Linked DNA regions of Homo sapiens: regions 1, 2 and 3 are each linked to region 4. The links come from fine-mapping of genetic effects on gene expression. A gene starts in region 4. Each other region holds a variant in brackets. All regions are shown on one strand. Distances are from middle to middle. Region 1 overlaps KIF16B (kinesin family member 16B). Region 2 overlaps LOC105372542 (a long non-coding RNA gene). Region 3 overlaps KIF16B (kinesin family member 16B). Region 4 holds the start of KIF16B (kinesin family member 16B).

Region 1 (5,512 bases), 44 kb after region 4:
TGTTGATAATAGTGGTTTTAAGATGAAAGCTCTAGATGCATTAGGTTAGTGATTGATTGAGAAAAAAGGACCCACTGTGGGAATGGGAGGAATCTGGGTTTGGTGTTCTGTGATATAAATAAACCCAGGTGGTTTGTTCTCTTGTTGAGCAGGACATGCTTTGGTAATTGAATGCTGTAGGAAAGGTTTAATTTTATGAAGTATTTGTTTTGTAGCCACATGAACATGGGGTGTCCCTGAAGCAGTTCTTACTTTTGGGTCCACAATGGAATTGCCCAACTCCTGGTGGGTTGGAGTGGAAGCATTTTTCAGGCTTGGAAATGTTAAACTTGGCCCTGGGAATCTGCTGTAGTTCCCAAATGGTGTTTACTGCAAATGCTTTTTGGGTTTGTTCACAACTGATATTTATTTTGTCTCTGTTCGTCTGAGCTGGCCAAGATGTTACCCCTTAGCTGGTTTCCCCATACCTGGATTATTTTAAAGTAAATCCCAGGTAACATATCATTTGATTTGTAAATATTTCAATATGTATCTCTAAAAGGTTTTTTAAGTCATAATACTATTATCATACCTACAATATTAGCAATAATTCCTTAATATCATCAAATATCTAGTCAGTGTTAACATTTCCCTACGTAAGTTATAATTTTTTTTTTTTTTTTTTTGAGACGGAGTTTTGCTCTTGTCGTCCAGTCTGGAGTGCAATGGCACAATCTCGGCTTACTGTAACCTCCGCCTCCTGGATTCAACCGATTCTCTTGCCTCAGCCTCCCAAGTAACTGGGATTACAGGTGCCCGCCACCACACCCGGCTATTTTTTGTCTTTTTAGTAGAGGCGGGGTTTTGCCATGTTGGCCAGGCTGGTCTCGAACCCTGACTTCAGATGATCCACTTGCCTCGGCCTCCCAAATGGTTATAATTTTCAAAGTGCTTTTTCTGTTTGAATTGGGATCCAGTTGGTTGATATGTCTTTAATGTCTTTTCTAGCTTTAGATTTCCCTTTCATCGTTATATTCTTTGCAATTTGTCATAATTTGGAATATGCTGAGTCATTTACCCTGCTGCCTTTCCCACAGGCTGGATTTTACCGATTCCCCCACCTGAGAACATTGGCGTGTTCCCACTTACACTTGTCATTCCTGCTGGTTCCCTATAGGGCAGCTCTAGGTCAGAGTCAGGCCATCCCTGGGAGGGAAGGACAGGAACCCTGGGGCAGTCGCGTTGGTACTTCAGGTAGAATACACCTCGTACCTGGTTTTCTCACAGTGGCTGGCCTGGTAACCATCGGTGGTCCCTCCCTAGAGCCATTAATTCACCAGGGGTGACGAAATGATATTTTGTTATTACTTCTTTATTTTTTTAGCTGGAATATCTCTAAAGGAGAAACTTTCTTTCACAGTTGTTTGGTTACTTGAAGTATAGATAGTTTTGGAAATGCAAGATAAATGCTTGATTCTTTCTTTTAACAGTTTTCAAAATAATGAGACAGATCCTTTGATCTTTCAGAGGGGACCACTGAGTTTTTATTTTTAAGTTATGAGTTTATGTGCTTAAATATATTCTATCTATTTCAGTTGGTTTTTAGTTTCTTTGCTGTCCAGATTTCTCAACTTTGGGCAGCAGGAACTTATGCAGGTTGGTTCCTGAGTCCTTTTGACAGGGTCCTTGTATTAGTTTTCTTTTAGTGTATAACAAATTACCCCAAAACTTAGGGGCTTAAAACAATATGTATTGACCAGGCATGGTGGCTCGTGTGTGTAATCCCAGCAATTTGGGAGGTCGAGGCGGGTGGATTGCTTGAGCTCAGGAGTTTGAGACCAGCCTGAGCAACACAGCAAAACTCCATCTCTACAAAAAATACAAAAATAGGCAGGTGCAGTGGTGCGTGCCTGTAGTCAAAGCTACTTGGGAGGCTATGGCAGGATAATCGCTTGAGCCTAGGAGGTGGAGGTTGCAGTGAGCTGAGATCATGCCATTGCACTCCAGCCTGGGTGGCAGGAGCGAAACCCTGTCTCAAAAAAAACCAAACAACAACAACAAAACACAGCATGTATTATCTCAGAGTTTCTGTGGGTCAGGAATCTGGGTGGGGTTGAGCAGGGTCCTCTGACTCCGGCTCTCCCCTAGCGCTGCAGTCAGGGTGCCAGACGGCTTCCCAGTCATCTCTCATCATCATGTCCCGGTGCGGGCTTGGGGAGCGTGCCCTGCCAGGCTGTCTGGCGTGCTGCTAGCGGGCCCCTGTTTCCTGCTGGCTGGGTCTGTCCACAGGGGTCCTCACTCTGTCGTCCCTGACTTTTCACACTGCCAGGGCTCAAACAGAGAGGGCAGAAGAGAGAGCCAGCAAGACAGAAGTCACAGTCTTGAAAGCCCGCCTGGGAAGTGACAGACCATCACTTGGGTGTGTTTGTGTTGTAGTCATTAGAAGTGACTCACCAGGTCCAGCCCATAGTCAAGGGCAAGGATCGCACACGACAGGGTGTGAGTGCCGGGCAATCACTGGGAGCCGTGTTAGAAGGTGCCCGCCACAGCCCTAGTGACCTGTGTTAGTGTTCCTGCTTTATAGTGTGAAGAGATGGTTCAGTATTTGGATTGAATCACTTCTCCAAGGAACCCTGACTTATTTTAGTGGAAAATGTTATTTATAGGCTATAATTTGAGTGTAAGATTCTAGGCCTTTTCAATGGACAAAGCAAGGGAGTTGTTTGTTTTTTAAATTTTGGATGAAAGATGAAGTTTCTGCTACTCCTTCCAATTAGATTCAGGACTACAGTTTTTTCTGGGACAGAATTTCACTCTTGTTGCCCAGGTTGGAGTGAGTGCAGTGGCGTGATCTTGGCTCACTGCAACCTCTGCCTC[T/C]TGGATTCAAGTGATTCTCCTGCCTCAGCCTCCCGAGTAGCTGGGATTACAGGCATGCGCCACCATGGCCGGCTAATTTTCTATTTTTAGTAGAGATGGGGTTTCTCCGTGTTGATCAGGCTGGTCTTGAACTCCCGACCTCAGGTGATCTGCCCGCCTCTGCCTCCTGAAGTGCAGGGATTACAGGCGTGAGCCACCGTGCTCGGCCAGGACTACAGTTTTTACTTAACCTCATCAAACTTATGTTTGTATCTCATTCAGCCACTTCAAAAACCTTGGTTCTCTAGGGCACCAACATCATTACTCTTGTAATGTCCCACAGTACACAGACAGAAATCTCAGAATAATGGCACTTACATTACCACCAAAAATATGATTACTAAAAATGCTTTAAGATTTCTTTGTAGTTCTTTTTCTTTTTAGGATATATCTCATTATAGTATACAGTCAAATTCCTCTATAGAGTCGTAATTGAAATAGTTTCTCACTTTGTGGTACACAGCTAGATTCATTCGCTTCAACTTACTTCTAAATTATAGCTTGTTTTTTGAAACTCTTGTTTTATTTTTGCATAAATCATTTTTATCGTTCTAAAGATGACCTCCAGATCAAAGTATATTTGCAGAAATCTAGCTTCTATCCTTGTCCACTTCCCTTGTCTGCCCCAAATCCTTATCCTCAATTTCCCTTTTTTTCCTAGGTAGCCTTTTGAAAAATACATAGGTTTTAAAAAAGTGTTTAAATATAATTTGTATTTTTCTACATAGATTTTCTCCATCTTTTGTCTCCACTGAACAGTATATCCCAGTATATCCCAGTGGCCACGCCATAACAGATATAGGGATCTTCCTCATTCCTTGTTCAGTGGCGTCACACTCCATTGGGTAAATGTATGGTCATTTATTCTAGGGAACTGTACTCTTTAGGAGTCCTCCTGTTCTGCTGTTTTCTGAGAAATGCAGTTTCTGAACAGATGTAGAAAGAAGGTAGGAGGAGGGAACAGTGCCCTGGCTGCTTCTGGAAGCAGCACCTGCTTGTAACCACTCCAGTTTTCTCTTTGGTTTTCATCTTGGGTAGGGGGCTAAGGTCTCTTTCTCTTTGTAACAAGGTGAGGGGGGCTACTTTTTTTTGGTGAGTCTTAGCTCTTTGTGGTGTCTGTTATTTCATTTACTCTTCTTTTGGCTTACAATTGGAAATTCTTTCAGGGTTTAACAACACACTGTGTATCAGCCATAATTGTTGATGGTGGCATCATTTTGCGTATCTTCATGTTATATTAGTAAGGATTTGGGAGGAGCCGTGTCTGGGATTGCTCCTCAGATGCCATTTGAAAATAAACTCCTAACGTAAAAAGTAAATAAAACAAATGGGTTTAGTTTTGTTTTGTTTTTAATAATCTTTTCTCTTCTAACCACTACTGAATTATTTGTATTGCAGGGAAAAGGACTTGGAGGCCAAGTTCATTATTCAGATGGAGAAAAGCAAAACGACAATCACAAACTTAAAGGCAAGTCATGACCTGGCCTTGCTTAAGTTCCAAGAGCCCCATGATTGCTTTACTGTGGGGATGACTAATGAGTAAATAAAGCCTGTCTGCTGTTTCCACACCCTCCTTTCCAGTGCAGTTAGCCACGTCAGCTTGCACCTGGCTTGGGCTCAGTCTTGAAGCAGAAGAGTTGATCCCGTTTCCTTTCCCATTCCTGGCTTTATTTGATCTGGAAGCCAAATCCAAGCTGTTGCTCTGGTCCAGGAGCTCCTGAGTCTATCCCAGATTCGGGCATTTTCATCCTGTGTCCTCGTAGTAGGGACTTAGCCTGGCAATTGACTGTGTTCTGTGAACATTAAATAAGCTTTGCCCCTATATTTTTTTCCATTTTTAATGAAGAGGATCATGTTTGGTAATCCTTGAAGAAGAACTGATACTATTATTCAAAACTCAGGGAGGAAAGATTAAAAAAAACCACCAAATTTCTTTTCTGGAAAAAAAGTTAAAAAAAATTTTCAAGATGGCAAGTTTCTCCTTTGGCACTGAAAAATATCCTGTTTGTTTATTTGGTTAGGAAATTTTTAAAGGGCACTGAATGCTTTTCGCTGAGGAGGGTAACGGGGGTATAAAATTAATATTGAAGAAATCAGAGCTGGGCTTGGTGGTGCACACCTGTGGTCCTAGCTACTCGAGAGGCTGAGATGGGAGGATCACTTGAGCCCAGGAGATCAAGGCTACAGTGAGCCCTGTTTGTGCCACTGCACTCCAGCCTGGGCAACAGAGCAAGACCCCATCTCAAACAAACAAACAAAAAAACAACAACAAAAAAGAAAGAAATGAAGTACTTTATGGGTTCAATGCCTTTCTCCTTTGATATTTGTCATTAACTTTTAGGTCTGGGTTTCTGAGACATGATGCTCCATGGCCAAGTCAGATCTATCTCCTGTTCACATCTGTGGAGATTTCTATTAATTTATGGCTCAAAGGATTGGGTACTTTGAGATCCAATTTCAAAGTAGTGCGAGTTGATCTCCAATGGTAGAAGCTGGGAAATGCTCCCATCTTCCAACTGGGCAGCCTCTGGATCATTTCATTTCCTCCATTAAGGCGCTGGTGTCCTTTGCCTGAGGCATTCTCCACTGGATGCCTTTCTTCCTCTGCTTAGCACAA
Region 2 (5,512 bases), 41 kb before region 4:
CCACTGTAATGTTCACACTCAGGTGGCTGCCAGCAAATGATTAAACTCCATGAGGGTCCAAGAACCAGGCCATTTCTATCAGGACTTTCCTAATGGACAATTCTTGCTGTGAGGCTCCTCACTGTCCTGGCTGTGACTTTCTCAGAGCTGTACTGCAGTCTATAGACTCATCCTACCCAAACCTCTTTCCTTCTCTTTTTCCTTTCACAGGAGTCAGGCCTGCATCTACTCTGAAGCGTCTCCCTGCCTACTCACATTTCCTTCCCCTTTACCCTGTACAGAATTTCCTCCATTAAATCTTTTGCATTTCTCCTTCTATCTTGGCATTTGCTTCTCATAGGACCCTAGCTGACATAGTGGATCTGAATCCTGAGGTCTGATTTGTGGAGCTGTGGGAACTTGTGAGATCAATTGCAAATGAAACATTACAATGGAATCCAAGGTAGCAACACTTAGAATTATAGCACACATTTGTTACTTGGCATGGAAAAATGTTTATGATAGAGTAAATTGAGGAATTACAAAACAGTATAGTATGTATTCCAAACTTGTAAACAAGAAAGTATATATAGAAAGAGAAAAATTTTAGAAGGCTATGCATCAAAATATTGAGATTGGTTTGCTCTAGATTATAGCAGTCTTGCTTATCTTTTTTGCATGTTTACATTTTCAAAATTTTTCGTAATAAAAAATTGTTTCACTTTAAACACAGCTGAAAAGAGAATCTTTTGGCGTAAAGGAGGAGTATTTTAGGGGCTAGAGCACTTTGGGAAGATAAGGCTGCTGTAAGTTTTTCTAGAGCCTCAGGACTGCTCCATTAAGGGTCACCATATAGGTACCAGGGGCCAACGGAGGAAAAGAACTTGCAGAGGTAAGAACATAAAGACCTCAGGGAAGGCCTAAGAGAAAGTGAGTGATGAGGGGGTAGAAGGGTCCCCTCCTTTTTCAGTGCATGGATCAGTTCAATTACTATCCCCACTACCATTCTCTATCTGACTCTGATGTCATTTTGTGACCCCTTAGACCTGATTGTGTGCATGTAATATAGCTCACTCATTCATCCAACCAACATTTATTGAGCCTTACTCTTGGCTAGGCATTCTGCTAAGTTCTAAGGATTCTGGCATGTGGCAGATACTGACAGTTGCCTCCCAATACCCATTCTCCCCTTTTTCTTGTTAAAAAAAATCCTGATTTTATTTAGGCAAGCAGCACGTCTGGTTAGAAATCATGTCTTAGCGCTCACTGCAGATAGAAGAGGCCATGTGTTGCAAGCAGGAAACACTGAAGGGGGTTGGCTCAATCAGCAGACACCTTTGCCTTTCACCCTTCCCCATCTTTGGAAAGTAGATGGAACCATGAAATGAACATAAGAAACGAAGACCATACACTAAATATATGGGAGCAAAAATCAAGAAAGAATCAGTCACTAGTGGCATTATTAAACCACTAAAATGGACCTCCATATTTCTTGTTATGTGAGAAAAACAAATCTAATTTGCCGAAGCCACGGTTTTGGTGATATCTGTAACTTGAAGCTCAACAGAGTCCTAAATGGAACAAATAGAGAATGAGTCACAAGCTCTACCCTGGCCTATGTATGGGCAGACAGCCAACAAGTAAAACGTAATTACACTCTACACCCCTCTTTTTCCTACTGTTCAACTTAGAAAGAAGGCAGCCTACTGCAGTTCTGCTCCAAATTCCTCAGGCCTGCGTTTCCGCAGACTCAGGCATTTGGAAATCGCAAGCAAGATGAGTGCAATTGTTCTCAGAAGATGACTGGGACCAGCTGTTCTCAAACGGTTTGGGCTCTGGGCCCCTTTACATCCTTCAGAACTATCAAGAACTATAAAGAGCTTTTGTTTATGTGAGCTGTACAGTCCATATTTATCACAGTAGATATTAAAACTGAGGGGCTTCAACAATTTAATTTAATAATAGTAACAGATTCATTGTTATATTTTATAAAAATAACTATTTTCTGAAACCAAAAAAATCAGAAATAATCAAGAGTGACACTGTTTTACCTTATTTATTTTTAGAGAGAGGGTCTTGCTCTGTGTCCCCTAGGTTGAAGTATAGTGGCACGATCATAGCTCACTGAAGCCTCAGATGATCCTCCCACCTCAGCCTCCCAAGTAGCTGGGGCTACAGGTGCATGCTACCACGACTGGCTAATTTTAATATTTTTATTTTTGTGGAGATGGAGGTCTCGCTGTGTTGCCCAGGCTGGTCTCAAACTCATGGTCTCAGGTAAGCCTCCCTCCTCAGCCTCCCAAAGTGCTGAGATTATAGGTGTGAGCCCCCACACTCAGCCTGTTTTATATTTTTTGCAAACCTCCTTAATGTCGGGCTTGAAAGAAGACAACTGATGGTATTCTGTCATCTGCTTCTGCATTTAAAGCAGTCCAATCCTTTGCATTACATGTAGCCTCTGGAAAACTCTACCATACATAATAATACTAACATGTTAGCATCATTACGAACATTATTTCAACCTTGTGGACCCCCAAAGGGGTCTTGGAGTTCCCCAGGGGTATCCCTACTGTACTTTAGAGTTGCTGCTGTGACCAGTGCTACTCAAAGCAAGATCTCCAAACTCTTTGTCACGGGTCTGTGTTAGATAAGTTCAGAAATTGAGTAAATGTTTAGAAACTCTTACAGCAATTTGACAGTAATTTTATGTCTGTTGAATCTAACAATAACGTTAATCAATCAGGGCTTTGTTTCATGTCTTTTCTATTTTTTTATAATTTATGTTTATTATATTTTACAAAAGAATCAGTCTGCAATGGATTGAAAATGAAGGAAGAAAGAGCTTTCATCACGGTTTCTGAAGTGATGATCTATCTTGGGGATGTTCAACGTGTGGTTCTCAGCAAGTAATGTCTACGTCATCTCGGAACTGGTTAGAAATGCAAATTCTCGGGCCTCCCTCCAGATCAAAAGAATCAGAAACCCTGGAGTGAGGCCCAGCTATCCGGGTTTTAACAAGCCCCCCAGGGACTTGAATGCTCAGGAAAGTTTGAGAACCACTGGTCTAGATCTGTGTTTTTCTAACTTAAAGGTACATCACTTGGGGAGCTTCTTAAACTGAAGATTCTGATTCAGAAGATCTGGGATGGGGGTGGAGA[C/T]TTTACATTTCTAATAAGCTGCCAGGGGATGTGGGCATTGACCCCATTTTAAGTAGCAATCACATGGGTAAAAGAAATCTGTTGTTGAGACAGTTGTCAGCTAAAAAGAAACAAAACCAACACTGCAGTAAAACAAACAAACAAAAGGTGTTTTCATCAGGGTCTTAAGAATTGCAATTCAGGACACACAGATCTAGCAAGCGGCTCCATCAGGCAAGGTTGGGCAGGGGCTTATAAAGGTTTACTGTAAGTTTACATACCTGGAAGGTTTTCATATAGTGCATGATTGATGATGGCTGGTTAACAGCTTAGGATGTCTTTCAGTCTTGTTTGGCCTAGCTGTCTTTCCAGGAAGCTGGTGATCAGGCCCAGTATAAACAGTACAAGTCAAATGCAGTTGGTGTTACAATTTGGCCCAGTTCAACAAGTCAGATTTCATCTGGGTGTGCACATGACTGGGATCCAACTCCTTATGCCCCGCAGATCCCATTTAGATACCTCTTACATAACCATCTCCATCTTGGATTTTATTTTCTCCACACAGTGGAGAAACAATTTCTATAGAGACAGACCAGCAAATTGGCTGCTGTATCCCGTAGAAGGCCAAGAGGCTGTTAGTGGCATTCTTTAAAGGATGTTGTCGTAATTTCTTTTTTAATTGAGGTCAAGGCAATAGAGCTTTGAGGCAGGTGCAATTTAGGGAAGGCTGCTTTCCTTCTGGCCATGGAAATGAAGTCCTAAGAAGAGAGTTCCACTCCAGGTTTCTGCCAGCCTGGGATTTCCAGCATGGCTTCCCTCTCTGCAGCACCTTGCTAGCAACTTAATTATCTGGTGCTTGAAGACTGAAGGTGACATGCTCTGGGGAAAGCAGGACAACGGTGAGTGTTGAGTGACTTTACTGAAAATATAGACAAGTAATGAAATTTTGAAGAACTGCTGCTGTGGCAGGAGCTGAAGGAAACCAGAGGCAACAGCTGCAGCTTCTCCCAGTTCCTCAGGGAAACATGCTGGGGTGGGGAGTGGGAGGGAGAGGGCTGGAGTGCATGGCACAAATGCAACCAGTCCCACTGGACTGTCAGTTGAACTTGATAAAGGCAAAACGGAAGCTGAACATCTGCAAATCTGTTTAGATTGTGATACTTTGGACCAGAGGAACAGTTATCCCCAGGAACCACCATGCAGCATCAGGCCAGTGAAGGATAAATTTGGGTAAGGACAAACCCATTCCAGCTCCTGCCTTCACCCCAGGTCTTTGTGGGCCATTGGGCAAAGCCTTTTCAAATAAAAACTTGAGAAAAATGCCTATGAATACATCTTTCACAGTTGAAAGAGAGATAATATGAGCAGCAGTCAAATTTGCCAGGCTCTGGAATCAGACTGTCTGGGTTTGAACTCAAACCCCATGATAATGAGCCGTGTGTCTTTGGCCAAGTTGCTTTTCCTCTCTGTGCTTCATCAATCAGTTGTATTTGTTCTATCCCTCTCACCAGGCTTTGAGCTAAGGATGGTGACTGCATTTCATTCATTTTTCCTTTCTGGTGGCATCTGATTGAGAAGGGCAAGGTACTTAACTCTGTCCATTTTAAGATTTGAGTTGAGAGCCACAGGCAATATGTGACATTGGGATTCTAAAGAGGGAAAGAGGAGTAGTTTGTGGTGCTTGTGGTGGTTGTGCAAGGAAGATTTTGGACAAGAGAGTCTACTGAGGCTGGGACTGCATCACCAGGAACTTTGTAAGAGGTGCTGCAGGCACAGACAGATTCAGGGGCTCAAATGATGCCTCAGTCTCCTCCCTCCATCACTAAGCCCGGCTTGTCCAGCATCAGCTCTATCTCCAGGCCAGCTCTCCTCACCGTGGTAGATGGAGCCTCCGCATGTGGAGTGGCCCGGCTGTGATCCGGCTTAACTTGAGCTTTTATGGCCACCCTTTATTACTTTGCTTCCATGAGAACACACATACCGAGTTCCACACAACTGCTTTATAAATGAGCTTTTGGAAGATAAGTATGCAGAAGCCAGATATGCCCTGTTTCCATCTGGACCAATACCCATGTATTAATCTTCCCACTTCTGGTAACATAAAAACAGCTGGCCAAAGTGTCCTCCAAGCAAAATCCATAAGAGACTCAACCTTGGCCCCAAATGGTAGTTGAGATGTTTTTATACTTTGACTACTTTGTCCTTCCTTGTGACTCCTCTGCCCTCCTCTCACTTCATCCATTCTGTAGTTCCAACCCCAACACCACCATCTTCCCTTCCTGCTCACTCCCACCAAGTCAGACAACACCCATGCTAGAAAGAAGTAGTAACGATTGCACCTGTCACTAAATGATCAGCACCTCTGCTGCCCTAACAGCTTCCCTATGACAGTCATA
Region 3 (5,512 bases), 300 kb after region 4:
TGCCTGTAGTCCCAGCTACTCAGGAGGCTGAGGCAGGAGAATTGCTTGAACCCAGGAGACAGAGGTTGTGGTGAGCTGAGATCGCGCCACTGCACTGCAGCCTGGGAGACAGAGCAAGACTCCGTCTCAAAAAAAAAAAAAAAAGTACAATTTATCATGCACCAGTTTTACTTCCATTAAGTGTAAAACATTGGATGTTAGAAGATTTTTAGAAACTAAGTTATTTTACAAGTGTTGTTGTTAGTAGTCCTCATTAATATTTTGAAGGAGAATTAACAAATTCTCGTTGAGTAGAATGTCTTCTTTCAGAAGGAAATTTCAGGTTGGCAATTCATAGAGGTAGCTAAATTCTACTTTCTCTTCTCAACTGTGGCATCGTCGACATTTGGGCCAGATAATTCTTTGTCCTGTGCTTTGGCATCCCTGGCCAGCATCCACCAGGTGCACTGCCTGTGCACCCCTATGTGACACTCAAAACTGCCACCAAACACTGCTGAACACTCTATGGGGCAGAACTGCCTCTTGTTGGGAACTACTGCTCCAGGCTTAGGCCATGTTGCTTTCACAAATTTTTTGTTGTTACTCAGAGTCCAGAATTATTATGTGTAATTCCTAAGACTGTGCCAGGGTTGTTTGGGTTTTTTAAGCACACTGAGACAATAATAAAGGTTTGGGTCTAACCCCTTCCCTCCAGCCCATTTTCTGTTACAGATGAGATTTGCCTGGCCTAAAATATATTAACTATTCTTGTGTGCCCTCTTTTCCTTGAACACATCCCTCCAGCTCCCACATCTGATTTTATCCCCAGTTCCCAGAGCCTAGTCTCACATATGCTTTGCTTTCTCAGTGCCAAAAACGGCAGATAATGTTGCAACAAACATGCAGCAGGGGTCTGGAGCAAGTAATTGTAGTAAGGATTCCTTTTTGTTGATGATTATAGGACATGCAAAAAGATCTGTAAATATCAGTACTTGGAACTGACCCTCTTGTCCTCAGTATTGCTTTCCCTTTATTTTATAAGAAGGATTCAAAACAGATACTGACTGTGCAATTTTAAAATACCAGTAAGCAGCACATTTAACCTTGTACAGATGGCCGGCCTTTTTTTTTTGTTTTTTTTTTTTAATCATCTTTCTATTTAATGAGTAACTGGGAGCGGGGAGGAAATGACTTTTTTAAATAAGAGATTAACTAGTGACACTGTGGCTGAGAGGCAGATCCCCTGTGCCTGGCACCCTTGACATTTTCCTAGGCATTGTCTGCTGTAGATCTGAGACAGTGCTGCCCAGAATCAGTGCTGAGCCAAAGATATTTCTTCTGTGCATATGTATTTTGTGACTCCGTCTTCTCTGGTTGGTCTGATGATAGGTGGGACAGTGGAGGGCATTCCTCACGTGCTGGTTTTAATGACAATGATAGCACTTTCCAGGTGGGTGGGAAGTTGTTTCTGGAAATTTTTTCTCTTCTTGACACCATCCAACAGTACCTTGACCGTATTCTGATTGATTGATTGATTGATTGATTGATTGATTGATTGAGACAGGGTCTTGCTTTATCACCCAGGCAGGAGTGCAGTGGCACCATCACAGCTCACTGCAGCCTCTACCTCCTGGGCTCAAGTGATCCTCCTGCCTCAGTGCACCACCCTGTCCAGCTAATTTCTTTATTTTTTGTAGAGATGAGGTTTCTCCATGTTGCCTGGACTGGTCTCAAACTCCTGAGCTCAAGCGATCCCACCCGCCTTGACCTCCCAATTGACCATGTTCTTAACTCTTGTCTCTTCCACAGAAATACCTCAGGGACTTTTTCAGCGTGATGCTCCAGTCCGCAACATCTCCCCTCCACATCAACAAAGTGGGACTGACTCTCTCGAAACATACCATTTGTGAGTTTTCACCATTCTTCAAGAAAGGAGTCTTTGACTACAGCAGCCACGGGACGGGGTAGAGCCAGGGGTGATGGAGGAACCACCACAGCAGTGCCTTCTCGTCGAAGCGGGCTCCGATGCAGGGCAGCTCCCCCATGCGAGGATCCGGGTCTGCCTCCTCCTGCTGAAGACAGACATGCAGCAGCGGGCCCGGGCCACCTCACGTTTCCATACCTAGTGCCTGAGTTTGGGGATGGGATGCTCTGCCTGCTGATGTGGCCCTGACAGGCAGCCGTTACCGTTCCATTGCGGTTGAACGTGGCCTTTTCCCACAGTGCTTCCTTCTCACTGCGCAGCAAAGTTCGTCCCCTGTGGCAAGATAGATGTGGTTGGGCCATCGTGGGTTCCCTGAGCCCAGCCAGCCTGGGACCTCCCAAAGTGGGTGGCTTACCAGACCACCCTTAAATGACTTTCATCTGGTTTCCTCTTTCACCAAAATATACTCGTATTTTTTATATTTCTTCCATGTGGCTGGCTATATTCCAAGAAAAGCATTTTAAATTATTTCATTGTATTTTTTTCTTTTTTTCCCTCATTTGAATCAGAACTTTTATATAAAACCCAAACACTGATGTTTACACAGAATTTCATATTCTGCAAAAGGGATTTTTTGATCCAATCATGACTGTAGTCTTCCATGCTTGACAAATTGGATGTAGACAACATTACTTAAAACTTCTATAAATCCCTACAATTAGGATATTTATTTAACCTTGAATATTCAAGAACATTCTCCCAAATCTAAATGGCTACTGTGCATTCTTGAGCTTTTTCTGCTAAGCACAAAATGAACGCAAAGCTAAATGCATATTTTTAAGTATTATTCACATTTTTTGTTACAGAATCTATTGGATCTTTGGCTGGAAAACTAGAATTTATAGCAGTTTATTAATGATACCTTAAATTACTCAGGACTTAATGTAGCATTGCACTTCTGTGTACAGTAAAACTGCTTTGTTTTACTAAAGAGAAAAATGTGAGTGGAAAAAATATGTATGTG[G/T]TATATACTCAAATGTATATAATTCTATCTATAGATTTATATATGTATACATTCTGTACAGTAGTTCCATCAAAATATGTAATAATTCACACCAATTTTATTAAATGTATTTGCTTTTTCAAAATTTAAATTGAGCTGCTATCAATATTAAATGAAGTTATGGCATCTACCCTGTAGCTCAGCTTATTTTAAGTCTGTAACATGATCATTCATACTAGTCTGTTTAAACATTGATCTAATGTTCTTGGAAATATGCATAATGTATAACTCAGCATTTGTGTTGCAGAAGATGCAGTGATAGTAATGATTGAAGTCGTAAATGAATGGTTAACAGAACATGTTTGCATTCCATCTTCTAGAGAATGCCTTCACAACAAAGTTCTCCAACCTGAAAAATATGCATAAACGTGCAATTATCCCTATAAGGAGGAAAACTAGTATTGCACTAATTAAATATCATAGTATAGTGTGAAAAAAAATGAGGACATTTTTGCTGCAGAAGGACCTGCTTTTGTCTGCAGTTGTGATTACAGGAATAGGTTTAGGAGCAATTACTACCAGAGAATTTCAAACTAGAGATTAAGGGATAAGAGCTGGGTAGATAATAATTAACCATAGGTCATTTATTTAAGAGGAGTCTTAAGCCCTAAAGATGGTCCCTCATTTGCTGAGTAAACTAAGTGGTTTCTCTTCAAACTGACCAGATAATCTATCTCTTGGCCTTTGAGGCCGGTATTGGAGACTAGGCTCCTGGTAAGCATTTTGTTAAAATCACACAGAAGGTTTGGCAAGAATAAATAGACATGTGTTTGTAAGAAGTGCTGAAATCAGAAGATCCTTCTATTCTAATCCTCACCTTAAGTAATTATAGTTGAGTTTGGAGTTTGAGTACTACTAGCAAGCTCTGGCCAAGGCCGGTCATAACATGGGAGTCGTTTTGCCTCTCTAGGCCTCAGTCTGTCCATCTGAAAATGAAGCTGTGGTACTGGATGGTCTCTTGAGTTTCATTCCAGCTCATGGTTACAGCAGAGGAATAAACCATGTCATTCGGACTCATTACAGTCCCTCATATGTGTACGTGAAGTACATACTTCCAATCTGATTTAAAGGCAGCTGATTCTGAATAAAACATGAGGGAAAGTTGAAAAGCAAATGAAAAGTCACATCTAAACAACAGAATTCCTTTCTGGAGTGAAGATAAGACAGATGACAGAATTAGGATAACAAATGGAAACTCCATTGATTTGGACTAATTTAAAAGAGTGAAAGAAAATTAGCAAATGGATATTTTATTACTTCCAAGTCATCAAATAACAAAGTAACGCCAAGCTGACCACTTTAGGCAATTCAAATTGAAGTGTCATGAACATAAATACTTTTGCAGTCGGTTGGACAAATCTAAGGAACTTAAACAATTTTTTATTTAAGTAGTTTTGACATTCACTCCTAGGTCTTGCTTGCATGATAAATATGTGCACCAAATTTGTTGATATCACTGGTATTGTAACCTTCCGCCCAGTTCCCACTCAGACCTTGCTATTGCTGAATTAGAAAGATTCACATTTAACCTCGTGATTAATTTTGGCATATGAATAGGGAGTAACCAAGTCATGCTGGCTTCCCCAATGACTGACATCTAGAAGATTCTGTGGCTCATAATGGGGGATGATTTGAAGATACACAAACAGGGTATCCCACCCCAGGGCCGATTCTATTTACAATTCTATGCAGAAAGAGCTAGTTCTGCCCAATTTGGTCCCTGATCTACTCAGAGCTGTAGACAGCATATGTGTCCAAGTCTGAGCAGAAGCAGCCAAAAGCTTTCACGGCTAGAACATGCCATAGACTCAGAGGTGGAGGCACCCTTGGGGAGCAGCTGTGGTGCAGGGTCACGTTGGTGTTCTGTATTCAACTTTTAAAGACAAGATTTTTTTTTTTCTGGACACATCTCCTGCAGCACAAAACCACAAGACCCCATTTCCTCAGGTGCGCAGTCAGGGATGCAGAGCCACGTGCTAAGGGGATGTGGCTCCTTACTGATACTCTGAGCCTGCCACAGGCTTGCCTTGTCCCCTCAAAGAGAATGTGCATAGCGCTTCAGGCCTGACATGCTTCAAACAGTAGCATTAGGTTTTCAAGTACACTGACGTTTATAAATGCCTAAAATGTTGCCTTGATTAAAATGTTGCCTTGAGGTGTCATCAGTTGACAGTTGAACGTCTCTGCCGCAGGAGACCCTTCTCCTTCCATAATCTGACACACACCTATAGGAGTGATTCAGATCCGACTTTATCAGAAAGGTCTTTCTTTTTTCATGTTAAATAAAAGAAGGGGAGTAGAAAAGTTAGGCAAAATAAATCCATGGCAAAATTAACTAGGGGCTGGAAGGGACAAGGACAGTGAGATGGCAAAATTAACTGCTTTAGTTTTACTTAGCTTATCATGACAGGTGATTTAGGTTTTGGGAAAACTAATTAAAGACCATTAATCTACAGAGACTCATTCTCGCAAATTAAACCTTGTGTATTCCTCCTTTTTCACATGCAAGAAGACCTGGCTATTGACTTTCTTGGTTTTTTTTTTGT
Region 4 (5,512 bases):
GTGCTCTCCTGGCGAGGTGTCTCGCCGCCGCAAGAAATCTGGAACCTGGTCTAAACTTTTTGAGGATGAAAAAGCAAAATGCACCAACTTTTCCTCACCCCAGGTGAGCCTAGAGCCCAGCCACAAAGCCCGGGTGACACCAGCAACCCAAAGAATTGAGAGAAATAATAACCGGTTTTTGTTTTAAGCCTCCACATTTTTGGCCATTATTTTTATGCATCAGTACATAACTGATTTGGATCCCTGAATTCTTACTGACCTTTTGGGCCCTGGATTTACTGCTTTTTTTTTTTTTTGAGATTGGGTCTCACTCTGTCACTCAGGTTGGAGTACAGTGGTGCGATCTTGGCTCACTGCAACCTCCTCCTTCCATGCTCAAGCGATTGTCCCACCTGAGCCTCCTGAGTAGCTGGGACTACAAGCACACGCCACCATGCGTGGCTTTTATTTTTGTTTGTTTTATTTTGTCGTAGAGACAGGGTTTTACCGTGTTGCCCAGGCTGGTCTCAAACTCCTGAGTTCTGGCAATCCATCCTCCTCGGCCTCCCAAAGTGCTGGGATTACAGGCATTAGCCACCGTGCCCGGCCTAGAGCTTCTGTAACTGTTTTTCACTATCAGTTATTTTAAGCTCTCACAGTTTGCGTAGAGGTCATCTATCCCCTGGCTCCTTGCAGGGAGGGTGGCAGCCGACAGCATCTTCACTCCCCGAACGTGCTGGAAATGCCATGTCTCAGGCTTCCCCTCTGACTTGCCCATTAGAAGCTGCAGTTTCACAAGACCGCCAGGTGATTCCTTTAAACATTCAAGTTTGCAAAACACTTTAAAGCAGGCACACTAAAGTCTGAGATGAGCAAACCCCTTATCTTATAATAATCTTCCCTTTCAGAAACTTCCTTCACGCCCCAATAGAAATATTTTCTGCTAAGAAAGTGCCCGTTCCGTATCGTCTGTGATGATCAAGCCTTACTGCTTCCTATTGAAAAGCTCCAGGCATGCTGTTTGTTGTCTAAAGCGTCTGCCGGGCTGCGATGGTCCGTTTTGTGTCAGACAGCAAAGTCGTGGATGGAAAGGGGGCTTATAAACACGTGTAGGTTGTTGGAATTACATTAACGAATGAATGAGCAAAACCTTCTAAACCACCGACCAATGAAACCCCGATACAGAAAATCGCTGTCATGAGTAAGTTAGCACTCCTGAAGAGTTTGAATACTGAACTGGCCAGAGTCTGCGCGCCGACGCCCCCCAGGTGGCCGGAGTGACCCGGAGCAGGCGTGGCTGTCTCTCAGACCCGCGCGTTGGGCCCGAACAGTTTGTCCCCACGCAGCTCCCATATAAGGCGGGCCCCTCCCCTGCCCCAGCCAGCTAGGTCGCCGCGCTGGCTCCCTGGCGGCTTCTCAAACCAACCCGCCGCTACTGCGCATGCTTGGCAAGCTCGCCCGCTCCTTAATATCCTGCTCCGGCTGTTCCTGCCACCCGTTGGTCAAATTCGCACCCAGCTCTGCTCCAGACAGAGGGAAAACCCAGTGATTTCCGGGCTCTAGAAACAAAGGGAGGCTATGATTCCCTGCTGGCCCTAGGGGTCCAGGGAAGGTTATGGAAAGATAATTCTTTGTGTAAGCGGGTTGCGTACTTGCAGACATCATCCCACTTGATGCATTCACCACTCTATGCCGTTGTTCCTGATTTGCAGATGAGACAAGAAGCCTCAGAGGCGCCCAGTAATTCAGAATTACAGGCTGACAAGGCTAGTGTTGGAGCTAGGACTTAAAAACAGGAGTTCCGCCTCCATTCCTTGCGTCTCCCATTATAGCTTGGCTTCCTGGAATGGCTGCTCCTGTGGCTCGCAGGTGGGCTTCTGGGTGTGCGCAAACGATTTCATGCATGCTCGATTCACTGAATGAATGAATGCATTTACCTTCTACACAGGAAGGGAGGTGGAGCTCACTTCTACCAGAGGCCCTAAGCCTTAAGATACCAGTTGTCGGCCTGGCGCGGTGGCTCACGCCTGTAATCCCAGCATTCTGGGAGGCCAAGGCGGGCGGATCATTTGAGGTCAGGAGTTCGAGACCAACCTGGCCAACATGGTGAAACCCCGTCTCTACTAAAAATACAAAAATCAGCCGGGCGTGGTGGCACGCCCAGCTATTCGGGAGGCTGAGGCAGGAGAATCTCTTGAACCCGGGAGGCGGACGTTGCAGTGAGCCGAGATCGCAGCATTACACTCCAGCCTGGGTGACCGAGCGAGACCCTGTCTCAAAAAAAAAAAAAAAAAAAAAAAAATACCAGTTGTGTTCGCCTTTAACTCCCTTATGATTAAAACTAAAAATTACTAAAGTGTACAAAAGTGCAAAACAAGTCTAAATAAGGTTTGATTCTAGCCAATATAATGACATTCCCGCACACATTTAAAACATCCAACACCCTATTAATTTTCGTTTATCGGTATCCCGAGTTAAGGGGTCCAAAACATACGGTCGGACCTCCTTAGGGTAGCAGAGAAGGCCCTAGCGGAGTTTGCCACCAACAAGCTGTGATCATCTCTGCGCCTCAGTTTGTTCGTGTGTAAAATGGATACGTTAACTCATGTTTGGCTGGGTGAAGCCAGGTTCTTGTTAAGGGCTGAAAAACTGGCTTTGGTCACCTGACCCCAGGACTGTGATCCTTGCCGCTGGCTTTAAATTGCTGCGATCCTCTTCTCTCCAGTTGTTCAGGCCATGAGGGTGGGTTCTAGTTTTCCTGAAACCATCCGCTCCGGGTCGCCCCCATAACCTCTGCGCCAAGGTCCACAACGTGGCCTTTCCAGACTTGCAGATCCCGGAGGCTGCTTCCAGGCCCCGCGGCCCCGCCCCTCTGCACCGCCCGGCCGCCGCCAAACCGTGGCGCATGGATCACGCGGGCCGGAGCCGTTCTGGGCATGCTCAGTGGCCTGGCAGGTGGGGCTGCCGCGGAACTCCAGGTCCGGCCGGGAGCAGAGGGGCGGGGGCGAGAGGGAAGTGGGCGGGAGCCGCGATCTGAGTAGCCAGCGTCGCCGGCGACCGCGGAGTTCTGGGCTAGTGGGACCCCGCGCGGGCTGGTTCGGGATGAGCGATGGCATCGGTCAAGGTGGCCGTGAGGGTCCGGCCCATGAATCGCAGGTGAGTGGGGCCGCCCGCGCCCCGCCCCCTCGTCGCGCCCCCACCCAGAGGAAGCCTGTTTCCAGCTCCCCCAAAGCCAGCCTGGACTTAAAAGTGTCACCGGCTGGTCCCTGGCCCACCGGGCCCAGGCTGTGGCCTCTGGGGGCCTGGAGGACTTCGTGCACTGCTGTCCCGTTCACATTGCCCTGGAGAGGACCCTGGTGGTAAAGGAGAAGATTCTATTAACTCTCTCCATCGTATTAACTTGAGATGTTCTTGTTCCCCCTTTAAAAAAGCATCAAGGGAACGTTACCATGAAGATGTAAAATAGTTGGGGGGAAGGTGAGAGTGCTGAGGGGGGGCACCACGAACTGTCAGGTGAACCCCTCATTTCTACCAACTCAGAAGTTCTCTTAACAATTAACCATGCTACTTTTTAATCTTTCAGTTAGAGATGATTTTGATTCCCTGAATGTCTAATCGATAACTTAGCAGTTCCTAACTTCATGTTAGAGAGTGGATGGGAAAACTTTGACAAAGTCCTGACTCCTAGAAAAAAGTCAGGGACGCTTTACACGTGTTTGAAATACTCTGATATTAAGAGAGAGGAAGAGTGTTACACACAAAATTTAATCTTGTTATATATTTCTACGAAGTAATGCTTTTTCAGAATCCTTCTCTTCATTCACTGAAAAATAGCCTGTGCTCCCTTTTCAATGACCTCTTTTTAATCCGTTTAGAAAGTTTCTTTGGAAAAGTTACTTTTTAAATTGGTTTGACTTCAAAGAATGAGGTAGAAATGGGATGTGTCCTCCAAGGTGACAGGCAAGGTTCACACAGAGCCATTTGATTTTATTGACTTCTCTACCAAGTTGGTGGATATTTGACTTACCATAGGGCCTTTTTGCTTTTGTCATATCAACTTGTGGAGGTTAATGTTTGGTAGTTCTGATGCCTGATTGGGGCAGCCGAAGGCCATAAAATCAAAAGATTTCCAGAACCTTATTTGACTCATCTAAATCTGTTTCTTCTCTTGGCAAGTAGGGAATCATTATTTTGGTTTGTAATCATTAAAACCCAGTGTTTTCAGAATCTGCTTTTTGTGACTTTTGAGTTATTTCTAAAGCTGTTTAGAGTAAGAGTTTGACTTTTTTGCTCTAAGGGAATATTTTTGTTTCTGTGTACATTCCATCATAGAAGATAAACTTTAGAACGATTTTTCTTTATTATGGATTTTCATGTGTATAGAAGTTCTTTTTCTTTTTTGGAAAAAGGTGAACACATGCTAGAAAATTGTATTGTGTAACTTTAGAAAGTATTTGTTAGGCTGGGCGCGGTGGCTCATGCCTGGGAGCCACTTTGGGAGGCCGAGGCGGGCGGATCACAAGGTCAAGAGATGGAGACCATCCTGGCTAACACGGTGAAACCCCTTCTCTACTAAAACTACAAAAAATTAGCCGGGCGTGGTGGTGGACGCCTGTAGTCCCAGCTACTCGTGAGGTTGAGGCAGGAGAATGGTGTGAACCCAGGAGGCAGAGCTGGCAGTGAGCCGACACCGTGCCTCTGCACTCCAGCATCAGTGACAGAGCGAGACTCCCTCTCAAAAAAAAAAAAAAAAGTATTTGTTAAGCACCTACCAAACACATAGCATTCCTCAGGGTGCTGTCTGGGATACAAGGGGAATGAGACCTGGTGAGCCATGGTGAGAGAGGGATTATGTACTGGCATGAATCTTGTGAAGTATTGGGCCTGCTGGGACAGGAACTGTGAGTTCAGTGCCTTGCCAGTGTAGGCCTGGAGCCCAGGTACATGGAGGGATGGCAGGAAATAAGTCCAGAGGCCATGGGCTTTGGGGAGGCAGATTCGCGTGATGTTATTTATATTCTCAGTAGAGAACTCTGGTGGTGTCAAGATTGAGGTAAGAGGCAGGTGATTAGCAGTTTGAGCCAGAGATGAAATTGGAAGGCAGGATAGTTACAGGAAGACCACTCACTGGCAGAATTGGCAGGATTTGGCAGCTCACTGGATGGGAAGAAGGGGGAAGAATGCGAGTGTAGAGTCATTAACTGAGGTTTGATGCTGAAGGAGGTGAACAGGTTTGAGGAAGGTGGACAATGAAGTTGGTATGTTCTCTCTTGGATGTGGAGAGTTACATGAGATGTATTAAGTGTCAAGTACAAGCACAGAGCAAGTGTTTCACGCATGTTGACCTTGTTCATTATCTGAAGTGTGGGAAGGACATCCATCCCTCTGCTAGAGATGTTCAGCAGAAAGCTGAAAATGTGGGTTTAGGTCTCAGGTGATTTGAGGATCGACATTTGGAAATCTTTTGCACATAAACCACAATTTAAGGATGTTACGTGAGAAGAAAAGGGAGCCAGGGATTGGACATTGGGAT

Evidence for each region. PIP is the estimated chance that this variant, and not a neighbour inherited with it, causes the effect. A credible set is the group of variants that fine-mapping cannot tell apart.
Region 1: its variant is the best candidate, but not a certain one, in a credible set for the expression of KIF16B in thyroid (GTEx, PIP 0.66).
Region 2: its variant is the best candidate, but not a certain one, in a credible set for the expression of KIF16B in prefrontal cortex (GTEx, PIP 0.58).
Region 3: its variant is the best candidate, but not a certain one, in a credible set for the expression of KIF16B in whole blood (INTERVAL, PIP 0.51).

The regions. Positions count from the first base shown.
Region 1 is chr20:16,527,222-16,532,733 of GRCh38, reverse strand. It overlaps KIF16B (kinesin family member 16B), which reads left to right. Exons shown (of 26, transcript NM_024704.5): 2 at 4,294-4,363. Among named protein-coding and RNA genes, the nearest start is that of KIF16B, 43 kb to the left of the region's middle. The variant T/C (reference allele first, on the strand shown) is at 2,857.
Region 2 is chr20:16,611,554-16,617,065 of GRCh38, reverse strand. It overlaps LOC105372542 (a long non-coding RNA gene), which reads right to left. Exons shown (of 4, transcript XR_937286.3): 1 at 3,398-5,512. Among named protein-coding and RNA genes, the nearest start is that of KIF16B, 41 kb to the right of the region's middle. The variant C/T (reference allele first, on the strand shown) is at 3,138.
Region 3 is chr20:16,269,688-16,275,199 of GRCh38, reverse strand. KIF16B (kinesin family member 16B) reads left to right here. Exons shown (of 26, transcript NM_024704.5): 26 at 1,789-3,096. The coding sequence ends at 1,947. Among named protein-coding and RNA genes, the nearest start is that of KIF16B, 300 kb to the left of the region's middle. The variant G/T (reference allele first, on the strand shown) is at 2,928.
Region 4 is chr20:16,570,852-16,576,363 of GRCh38, reverse strand. KIF16B (kinesin family member 16B) reads left to right here and starts at 2,916. Exons shown (of 26, transcript NM_024704.5): 1 at 2,916-3,135. The coding sequence starts at 3,089. It overlaps LOC124904875 (a long non-coding RNA gene), which reads right to left and starts at 1,061. Exons shown (of 2, transcript XR_007067539.1): 1 at 637-1,061. RefSeq lists silencers at 2,880-3,009, 2,796-3,025 and an enhancer at 2,638-3,159.